Linked DNA regions of Homo sapiens: region 2 is linked to region 1. The links come from fine-mapping of genetic effects on gene expression. A gene starts in region 1. The other region holds a variant in brackets. All regions are shown on one strand. Distances are from middle to middle. Region 1 holds the start of TGM3 (transglutaminase 3). Region 2 overlaps TGM3 (transglutaminase 3).

Evidence for each region. PIP is the estimated chance that this variant, and not a neighbour inherited with it, causes the effect. A credible set is the group of variants that fine-mapping cannot tell apart.
Region 2: its variant is the best candidate, but not a certain one, in a credible set for the expression of TGM3 in whole blood (TOPMed, PIP 0.50).

Annotation. Positions count from the first base shown.
Region 1 is chr20:2,292,506-2,297,994 of GRCh38, reverse strand. It overlaps TGM3 (transglutaminase 3), which reads right to left and starts at 1,994. Exons shown (of 13, transcript NM_003245.4): 1 at 1,925-1,994. The coding sequence starts at 1,931. LOC105372503 (a long non-coding RNA gene) reads left to right here. Exons shown (of 3, transcript XR_937203.3): 2 at 705-803; 3 at 1,501-2,174. RefSeq lists enhancers at 224-756, 757-1,290.
Region 2 is chr20:2,318,009-2,323,008 of GRCh38, reverse strand. All of the region lies in intron 7 of TGM3 (transglutaminase 3), which reads right to left. Among named protein-coding and RNA genes, the nearest start is that of TGM3, 25 kb to the right of the region's middle. The variant G/A (reference allele first, on the strand shown) is at 2,300.

The DNA of each region.
Region 1 (5,489 bases):
AGACTAATCTCCTTCTCTTGTTGGTCCCCGTAGCACTTGTTTTGTATTTGTCATGCAGCTTAATAACAGTCTGCCTTGCATGCTGCTCACCTAAAAAACCGGTGGTACCAAAAAATATCAGACTAAAAGCTACCGAGGACAGAACCACATCTCATTCACCTCCATATTTCCCACTGCACCTGGCACAGCTCTTCTCCCTTAGGTGTTCAGTGAATAAATTCATTCATCCAAGAAACACTGATTGGGAACTTCCTGGCTGAGTGACTCGGAGCTGAGCTGGGAACTGCAAGTGGGACAAATTTAAGGGACTGAATGTATTCGCCTGTCTCTCCACCACCTTTTCAAAATTGATTTTCTCCCCACCAGCCTCATTCTGTTGTGACTTTAGAACATCTCTGGTTGTTAACAGAGACATTTAATCATGCCTCACAGCGGGCAGGCCATTCCTGAGAGTCCACGGGAGGTCCTGCACAGGGATGGGAGGTGCACATTCCTGGGGGCTGGGCACGTGCCTGTCCACTCCCTGGCTCTGGTTTCTTTTTGTGGAGAAAGAAAAGTCGGTACTGGAAGGAACCTCAAAACGCATTCATTTCAAAGCTTTCATCTTGAAAACTTGAGGCTCAGGGGTGGCAGAGAACACACAAGCAGTTGGTCACAAAGCTCAAATGAGAAGCCAGGTTCAGAATTGCTTTTTTATGTTCCAGATGTTATGTGCACTTATGTAGGAGCTCAGCTCTGGCAGCAGGACATGGTGGAAAGGGCACTGCTGAGACCTAGCTGGCTCTGCGATGGATTCACTGTGTGTAAGGTTCCACCCCTTCCTGGGCCTCAGCCACCTCCTGGAGGGAGGGAGATGGGCTAGATGACATCTGACCTCCCCTCTTGCTGCAGTGTGTAGGGTCCAGAGCTCCTCTTCTTAGCATCCCAGCCATGCTGTACATTACAGCAAGGAATGGGAGACAGGGGAGGGGGCCTAATGTGCAATCACCTGTCCCAGTTTTTGTGGCTTCTGAAGTAGCCAGCATTTGCCTGTTGCATTTGGCTCAGTGATGTCTTTGGCCAATCTTCCAGCAGCCCTAATCGCCATTCACAATATTTTACAAGTTTGACTCATATCTTGTTTGGATTTGGCGTCCCTGTCAACCTACTAGGCTGAGCACACAAGACAGATAATAATTAGCATGCTGCTTAGCAGGGGTGCTGATTAACAAAGGCCCATATCCTCGACAGTAAGCATAGAGTGGGGGAACCTGCACTTCCTGTTGTTCTTTGTAACCCCTGTTCCCTGGTGCTCTCCTGTGGACCAGGACATCTTGTGGCACACCTGCTCCTGCTACGGGGAGGCTTCAGCTCATCAAGTCACTTACACAGAGCCTGTCTGATGCTTCTGATGTGTAGCTTACTTAGGAGCATTCCTAATGCTCCTAAGTAAGTTGATTTGAAATAAACAATGGTTTCTTTCAAATCAACTTACATGTTACCACTCTCACTCCCTGGTAGTTCTGAGATGTGCTTCTTTGCTGACACTGCTGACAGCTGGATACAGCTACACTGAGAAACACGAGACCCGAGTCCTGTCTGCTTTGGCTTTACGGGTGGCGACGGATGTGTAAAAGAAACGCAAACACAAACAAGGCAAAGCTTGTCCTCTGCCTAAGGAGATGCGATGTCCAGCTGCACTGAACACCCTGCCCATTATTCAGAGCTACATTCCAATGATGTTCTACCCCAAGAATATGCTAGAGGGACCCAACCACCACTGAGAAAGAGCCGCCTCTGGCTAGCACCCTAAAATAGGAAGTCTGGCCTTCAGAGCCCCCAAGGCAGGCAGCTGTCCTGGCCGGACACTCTGGCTTGGCAGGCTGGCCCAGGGGAAGCACAGGCTTCTGGCAAGGACCTGATGGAGAAGATGCCATGCACTCACCAGCCATGTTTCGCCTTCCTCTGCCTCTTCTCAGGCTCCTCTGGGAATGGCACGGACAGTGCTGACAGACAGGCTGCCAAGGATTGCCTTACCATTTATAGAATCCTCTCCTACACACCCCAATTAGAATTCTAATGAAGTGGGCGAGGCACCAGGTCATTCCTGTAGTGCCTGTAAACGTTTCACTTACGACAGACTTGTCACCCAATGGACGTGCATCATGTTTGTACAAGACCAGCTTGGGGAGAAGGGGGCAGATAATAAAGAAACTCAAATAGTTCGCTTTTATAATTTTATAAAATGATGGACTATTTCCTGGATTGTAGGGTTTAGGAAATGATGACATGCTTTTCTTGCTGATCCTGGGAAGTTCTCTCTGAATCAAAGAAACGTCTCAGCAGAACCCAGAAGAAGAAAATTGTGAGGTCCTTTCTCATGATACACATGTATTAGCATCTTCCACTTGCACAGGGAAGTGAGACACATCACAGTTCATTTGTTTAGGGTTGTAGTGTGGCATAAACCATCATTTGATTTGGAATTAGAAGCCGTTGGTTCTGATGCTGGCCGAGCCCTGGGTGGTCTCCAACCCTTGAAGCCCGGAAGCCTTGCTTGTGGTTGGGGATAATCACTCCCACCCCTCTCAACTCACAAAGCTGTGGACACGATCACATGAGATGGTGCGCATGGGAAGTGTATGCATATCTACCAGGGCAGGTTAAACTGAGATCACACTTGGCGTTGAATGTCAGTTTCAGTCCAGATTTGGGGGAAAATTGTTGTTTTTAATGAGGCAGCAGGAACAGCCTCTAACCTTATGCTTCTGCCATGTCTTTCTCAGACTGCAGGTTCCGTCACTGACCCTCACTGGGCCCACCTTGACATCAGTTTAAAGAAAGGGTGTGGAGTGGGGAGAAGCTCTGACATTCTACGTGTTTTTGTTTGCTTGCTTGTTTCTAAGGGCGTATGTTTTTTCAAAGTTCCTATTATCGATATTTACAAATATCAAGGTTTACGATGGACAAAGGAGTGAGTATATATTTTTTAAAGTGAGGCTTCAAGGATTCACGAGAGAACAGAAATGCCCCAAGGCTTTCCCCAGCATCACAGTGTGGAAGGAAGATTGAGCACCATGATGACAAGGTTGGGTCTTTAGAGAGAAGTGAGAATGTTTGATCTCGAGAAAGAGAAGACGGAATAGGCAGGTGGCTTGGAAAATTGAAAAAGAGAAATCAGTGTCCTTTCTCCGTCCTTTAGGCCCCTACAGCCTTTTGTACATCTTAGAACCTCTATTACCGTATGTATCCACTGCACTGGAACTATCTGTTTATATATGTCCCCATCTCCAGACTGAGCTCCTTGAAGGTACAGGTTGCATATCATTCAAATCTTCTTCTCAGAATCTAGCACAGGGCTTGACACGTGGCTGGAACATGCACATTCTTGAATAAGTGAATCAATATCACTGTAAAGATGGGAATCATAACTACCGATTTAGTGCTTACTAATAATAACTAATTGATTTAGTGTTTACTGTGGGCAGGCACTGGCTAAACACTTTACATATATTAGCTTTTCTCATCTTCATAGCAACCCTATGCAAAGGGGCTATTATTATTTCCATCTTATGGGGGACAGAGAGATTAACCTGAGTCTCCAACCACGAGATTCATACCCATATGTAAATGGCTCCAGAGCCTGTGTTTGCTTAACCTTGGAGGTCAGCGCCTAAATGAGGCAGCCTTTCCCAGGCCTCTGGGGCTCTAAGACAGCTGGCTGTGCACCCATGCCAGGCAGAATGGGATGCACTGTTGGCTCTGGCAGATGACTAAGAAAAGAGCAGAGGGTAGAGAGGGACATGGAAAGAGCCTGGACCCAAGAGGAGACTCATGTGTGGTCTTGGCTCCTACCACGGGCACTAGCTGTGACTCTGGGCGAGGCCTCATGACGCCAAGTTCATCCTGCCAGAAAGCTGGAGGACAGCTCCATGAATGGCATGGGATGAATGGGTGTGAAAGTGCTCTGTATGCTTCTGTGTGTGGTCTAAAGGAAAGGAGGGGTTTTGCTTATTATTGTGGTTGTTGCTGTTGGCCTGGGAGCCAAGGAAAATCAGACCCCGGGCACTCCTTTCAATGACCTGACAAGGAAAGCTGCAGAGGTGACAGGGAGGTGGTGCTCCCCTTAAAAGGGAACCTGAAGACACACAGTCTTGGCTCTGCCAAGTCTCCTCACCTCTCGTAGGCTTTGTTTCCTCAACTGTAAAACTGAGTGGAATTGCTCTGAGAATCAAAGGAGACAGCAAGTGTAAAAGGTTCAGCACGGCGCTGGGCACAGCCCAGTGTAAAAAGTTAGTATTAATAATATTATATTATTAGCCTGGCCGGGTGCGGTGGCTCGCTTCTGTAATCCCAGCACTTTGGGAGGCCGAGGTGGGACCTTGAGGTCAGGAGTTTGAGACCAGCCTGGGGAACATGGTAAAACCCTGTCTGTACTAAAAATACAAAAATTAGCCAGGCATGATGGTGCGTGCCTATAATCCTAGCTACTCGGGAGTCTGAGGCACGAGAATCACTTGAATCCGGGAGGTGGAGGTTGCAGTGAGCCGAAATCGCACCACTGCACTCCAGCCTGGGTGGCAGAGTGAGACCTTGTCTCAAAAAAAAAAAAAAAATCATATTATTAGCCTGAAAGGCCCCGAGTGCCACAGGTTTTGCAAGGGGTCCCACGGGTTTGGACAGTGGTGTCCGACCACTGACCACCTGGTCTTCTCTAGGAGGGTCTGTAGCTGGTCTTGATCCCAGAGTAATGTAGTAAAAAGACCCCTGAGTTGGAGTCAAAAGACCTGGATTCAAAGCCAGGCTTTGGAACTTGTCCACTGTGTGATGTTGGCTGAATTCTTTTACTTCTTTGGCCCTCGGTATCCTCATCAGCATGATGCACACACCTTCCAGGGCTGTCATGAGGCTGAAAGCCATGGTGACATTGCGGGTATGATGCTCCTCTGTAGACAGGCTAGTGTTACACAGCCAGCTTCCCTTCTACCCTCCACAGCTCCTCCAGCCAAGCTGCCTGTAGTCTTTGCAACTGACCAGCAGTAGGGCCCCAGTAAGAGTCTGCCCTGAGTTACTTAATGTTGGGTACTGGAGGATTGCACCATGGCCGCAGCCACAGCCCCAGCCTGCAGGCAGACTGTAATTTGCAGCTGTGTCACAATTTCAGCTAAATGATTTTCAATTCATAGGTGGAGCCACCCAGCTACACACAGGATGAAATTCCTGCTTGGCCACACTCTGCGCCTCAGACCGCAGTGAAGACGAAGCATGCAGATATGGGCTTTTAAAAGAAGCCAATTGATCACTTGCCTTTTCTCTCCCTCTAATTAAGGGATTTAGGGTTGCTGAAGATTTCACAACATGTGTAGAGACAGAGAATCTTCTGAGAAATCATCCAGCCCTTTCCAGCACGACACATGTCTCTTGACAACTCCTAAGATGGGGGATTTTTTTTTTTTTTTGAGATGGGAGTTTCACTCTTCTTGACCAGGCTGGAGTGCAATGGCACAGTC
Region 2 (5,000 bases), 25 kb before region 1:
ATTATACATAAAACATTGGAGAAAGTCTACAATAATTCTATTTTCTTAGATATCCACCATTAACAGTTTGGTGTATGTGTTATATATATAGTGCATACAAACTAAGTTTTATGTTACTTATTTCTATAATGTTTTTATTTTCTATCATGTCAATTACTCATTACTTCTATAATTAGAAAATATATGTAAGTTGGATGATCATAGCTAACACAGTGTTAACACAGAAAGTTGAGTCCTGTGTTATTGCATATATTAACTTATTTAATCCTTACAACACCCTAAAAGACAGAAATGATTATTATTCCCCATTCAACAACTCTGGAAACTGAGGTTCAGGGAAGTTAAGTGACTTGAGAAGGTCTTACAGTGAGTAATTAAGCAGAGTGGGATTTGAATCCAGGCAGCTGGGGTTAAAAAAGGGAAACAGGTTAACAGTAGATTCCATTTTATGTAACCTGACTTTACATAGGTTCCATTCCATATAAGAGAATATGATGCACTTACGACGTATTTGAAATGATCTTATTTTTGAAGATTTTTTAATGACATAGGGAGAATGCTCATGATATAATGTTTAGTAAAAAACACATGACTAAAACTAATGGTGAAGTGATTGGTTTCGAGGTGTGGGAAAAAGTGGGATGTGTCTATTATATGCTCCGTCTTCTACTCATGCCTTGGAAAATGTATCATCCCAATTCTGTAAATAACAATAACTCAGAGAGAAAAGATGAATGGAAAACTACCAAGTGTTGAAGATATGTGAATAAGATCAGAAATGATTTTTATTTCTGTATGTATTTTGAATTTTTTTATAATTATTTTTAAAAGGGCATCATAAAAATGATCTCCAGGATCCAGGGAGTCTTTTTGAACAGGCCTTCATGATCGGTTAGAACTCACCAAGGAGAAGGCAAGGGAAGGAGTGTGGGAAGATGGTCCCAGGTGGGTGAGAGGAGCAAGGGAGGGATGAGAAAGTGAATAAGGACACCAAGTTTCACACTCAATTTGCTCCTGGCAGAGCACCCAAGGGGAAGGGCAGGCTGGTTAAAAAAAAAAAATTGATAAGTAGCTGTATTTTAATACTTGCTTGCAAGGCAGGAATTTAAGGCAGAGCAGATAACAACTGCATCCTGGTTCCTCCCTCATGCAAAAGCCAGCCACTTCAGTTACACAGAAATATTTGGGATGTGCATCTTTCCAATGCCCAGTGGCGCCATGTGGAAATTCCGGTGTGGGTTTCTGGTTGTGTGCCACGCTGTCTCCCACCCCCCAACCTCGGGCTCCACTCCTTTCCTGAGGGTTTCAGGAGCATAAGCTCAGGAGAGGACAGGCTGCGGGCATCAGAACTATCCAAGGCATTTATTAAAAAGTGCAGATTTCCGCTGCTCTCATCTTTCCCCACACAAATTAATTCTCATGCAGTCTTTGACGTTTATAAAACACTGCTCTACAGACACCAACTGAGCTATGCTTACCTTTGAAATCACAGAGTTAGGAGACCTTGCCTAGAAAGTGGCCCCAAACCCTGCCCTTCTGTAGGTAAACTCCCATTTGTCCTCCCAAAGTTTGTTCAGATACTACCTCTGCCAAAAAAGCCTTTCCTGACACGCCAAGAGAGTGCCAATAATACCTCTGTGCTGTCTCTGACTCTTGCAAATAATTCATTGATTTCATTGCTACTCCATAATTGCCAAGCTTTTAATGCAGCTGTAAACTCGTCTATTCAGTCTCTAAGGCCTAGTTATAAAACAAAACAAACAAACAAAAACCCTCCTCCAGCACAGTTCCTGCATCTTGTTCCTCTTGGTGCCCGGAGTCCAGTGCAGATGTGCATGGAATCATGTTTGCTGAATTGAGTTGTTTCTGGGCTGAAACCACTCTCTGTCACTTCCTCACTAAGGGCCTAGGAGCCAGTTCAGGATTAGTGGAAGCAGGTATTCAGAGGCAGAGGCCGTGGAGAGATTGCATGAGGAGCCAGGGGCTTGGCTGAGGTGTGGGTGCTGACAGCTGGAGGCACTGCCTGACTTCACCTCCCTGGCAGGGCTGGGCAGTCTCTAGGCACCTTCTACCTCAGAGTTCTGCAAAGTCTACAGGTAGAGTCAGATCTATGACTCTAGAAATTGGGGGATCAAGCCAAATGAATGAAGAAAACAAGCCAGAAAAGTCAAGATAACTTTGGCTAAACTGTTCCAAATCATTCGGCTGCTGCTCGGTGGCTGAATAGGCTCCAGAGACTTCCTTTGCAGTGGACCCGAAGGAGGACATCTCAAAGAAGCATCCCAAACTAAGCTCCCCC[G/A]AAAAGTGTCCTCACTCTGAAGAGAGTGAATACTCCGGAACTGCGTGACTCTTAAGCCAAACCATTGGCACGAGCAGAGTGGCTTAGAAAAAAATTTACCCCACTGGCTGCTGTGAATCTGATTAAAAGAAAGGCCTAGAAAATGTCACTGAGGTCCCCTGATCTGGCCCTTTGTTTTACAAGTGGGAAATTGAGGTGTAGCAAAGGCAAGGAACTTACATAATGTTATGCGCTTAGAATGTCTACATGTCTCCCGGTGTTTACCCTTAGACAAGTTACTTCTCTCGGGGCCTTTGTTTTCTCATCCATGAAAAATAAATTGGGGATGAAAATAACAATGCCTACGTCATTTGTGAAGATGAAATCTAAGCACTTATAACAGTACCTGGCACACAACAACTGCTCAACAAATTATTAGTTGCTGCTGTTACTATTACTAAGCACTTCTAATGCTTAATCTCCCTTGATTCTCACATTCTATTACTTTAGGCAAATCTGGGCACGGTTCTAAAGCTTTCAACACTTTTTGGTAACATACAAAGATTCATGTCAGAGGTTTTCTGTCCAAACTCCGGTTGCCCTTATAAGAATAGCTTAGTAATTTCACGCCAGGCAGAAACTGGCTCTTGGTTTAGCTCTCCCCTGCATGGGATTCAAGGAGGAAGGAACAGCAGGGCTCCCTTGGGAGGGCTAGCTCCCTTATAGAAAGTGGAGTGGGCTGAAGCTCCCGAGAATTTAAACATTTAAGCTGGCAAAGGACTTAAGAAATCATCTAGTCCTAGGCCAACCCTTATATTTCACATATGAAGAAACTTGGGACCAGGAGGATAAATTGCCTTGCGCAAGCCTCACAGCAATTGGGTGGTAGGGCTGGAGCTAGTGCTTGGGACTCCCTGTCCTCATGCCCTCCAGGGCTGGCTCCCCCAACCATCAGCTGTAGGGAATGGTGTAGGGAGTAACTATCAGCTCCCTTGGCTTTCTGAGAAGGTTCAGAAAAGGGGAGAGGAAGGGAGGGGTGACAAGATCCTCAGGAACAGTCAGAGCTTCTGCGCCTGGCCCCCTCCCATGAGGCCACAGAAATGACCACAGAGCCACCCTGGAATGTCTCCATCAGCTCCTACTTGTCCCAAAGGTGATGTTAAGCTGATGTGGGGGGCAGTGTGAATCACTAACCAGGAGACCTGGGTTCTAATTCTAAATTTAGCTTAAAAGCCTCACTTTCCTGTTTCCAGGACGCCTTCCTTGAGGATTTCCTCCGAGTTCCTGGTATCCCTGTCTCAGTCACTTGCCTGGGCATCACACACCATGCTGTGTTGCTAATTAGCCTCTACTAGTGGCCTCCCCACCCCGTGCCTCCTAACAGCACCATAAAAATGCTTTCAGTGGAGGAACTGAGACTTAAGCTTTCCACGTCCCTGCAGTTCCTAATGTACAGGATAATCACAGAAAGGGTATGCCGAGGGGACCCCCAACTTGTCTCACCAACCATCTCCTTTTGTAGAAGAAACTAAAGTTAGGAATGGCATAGCCCCAGTGATCAGAGCTGGTTGCGATGGGATTTTGGACACAAGAACAAAGAAAAGCCCAGGGAAAAGAAGACACTCATTCATGAGAAGTTGGAAAACAAAGTCTGGCCACAAGTAAGCAATATCATTAGAGAGAAAGTTGTGTATGTGCAGATCAAGAAAGAAACTCCTTAAATAAGCTTTCTCTCCCCTAGTAAAACCCCAGAATCCATTGACTCTGGGGTGAGTTACATAAACCTCACTCTCCTTCAGAAGGGAAGGGATGCTTTTATTACTCAACTCGGTTGCTGGCATGGAGTTGTTATTTATTTGTTTTAACAGTGTTTTCCATTATTATCTATTTTCGTTTCATTTTATACCCTTAGTTACATTAAGCACATTTCAGATAAGTTAGATATACTTATTCTGGGAATGATAAGTAATACAAACATTTTATGTAGACTATCTCAAAATTGAACATCTGAAAATAAGATTACATCTGTCATACGATTATCTAGCCACATACATGCATGTGAGCAATTATGTGTGTGTGTAGCCTTTGAAATGGATTAAAACAATAGATAGATGGGTACTTTATATAGATACATAGATATCTCTGTGTATCTACAGATATAGACATCATTGCCAATTGCCATCCGGTAATAACTTGGTATATGATATAACCTTAAACAGTTGTAACAATGTCTATTTTTATCTATATAATATCTATCTATCTAGTGCTCTATGCAGTTACAGATATATGTCTACACATTTCCTACTTCCAGTGGCATCTATCATTAAATTACGTGTGTGTGTGTATTGATAGTGTGCACATGGCATACTTATGGTTAGGAATATAAATGCCCAAATATATATAAAACATTTTGGCCGGGTGCAGTGGCTTACGCCTGTAATCCCAGCACTTTGGGAAGCTGAGGCAGGTGGATGGCCTGAGGTCAGGAGTTCAAGACCAGCCTGACCAACATGGTGAAAGCCTGTCTCTACTAAAATACAAAAATTAGCCGGGCATGGTGGTGCATGCCTGTAATCTCAGCTACTTGGGAGGCTGAGGCAGGAGAATCACTTGAACCTGGGAGCCTGAGGTTGCAGTGAGCCAAGATTGTACCATTGCACTCCAGCCTGGGCAACAAGAATGAAACTCCATCTCAAAAAAATAATTGTTTTCATCCGGAATC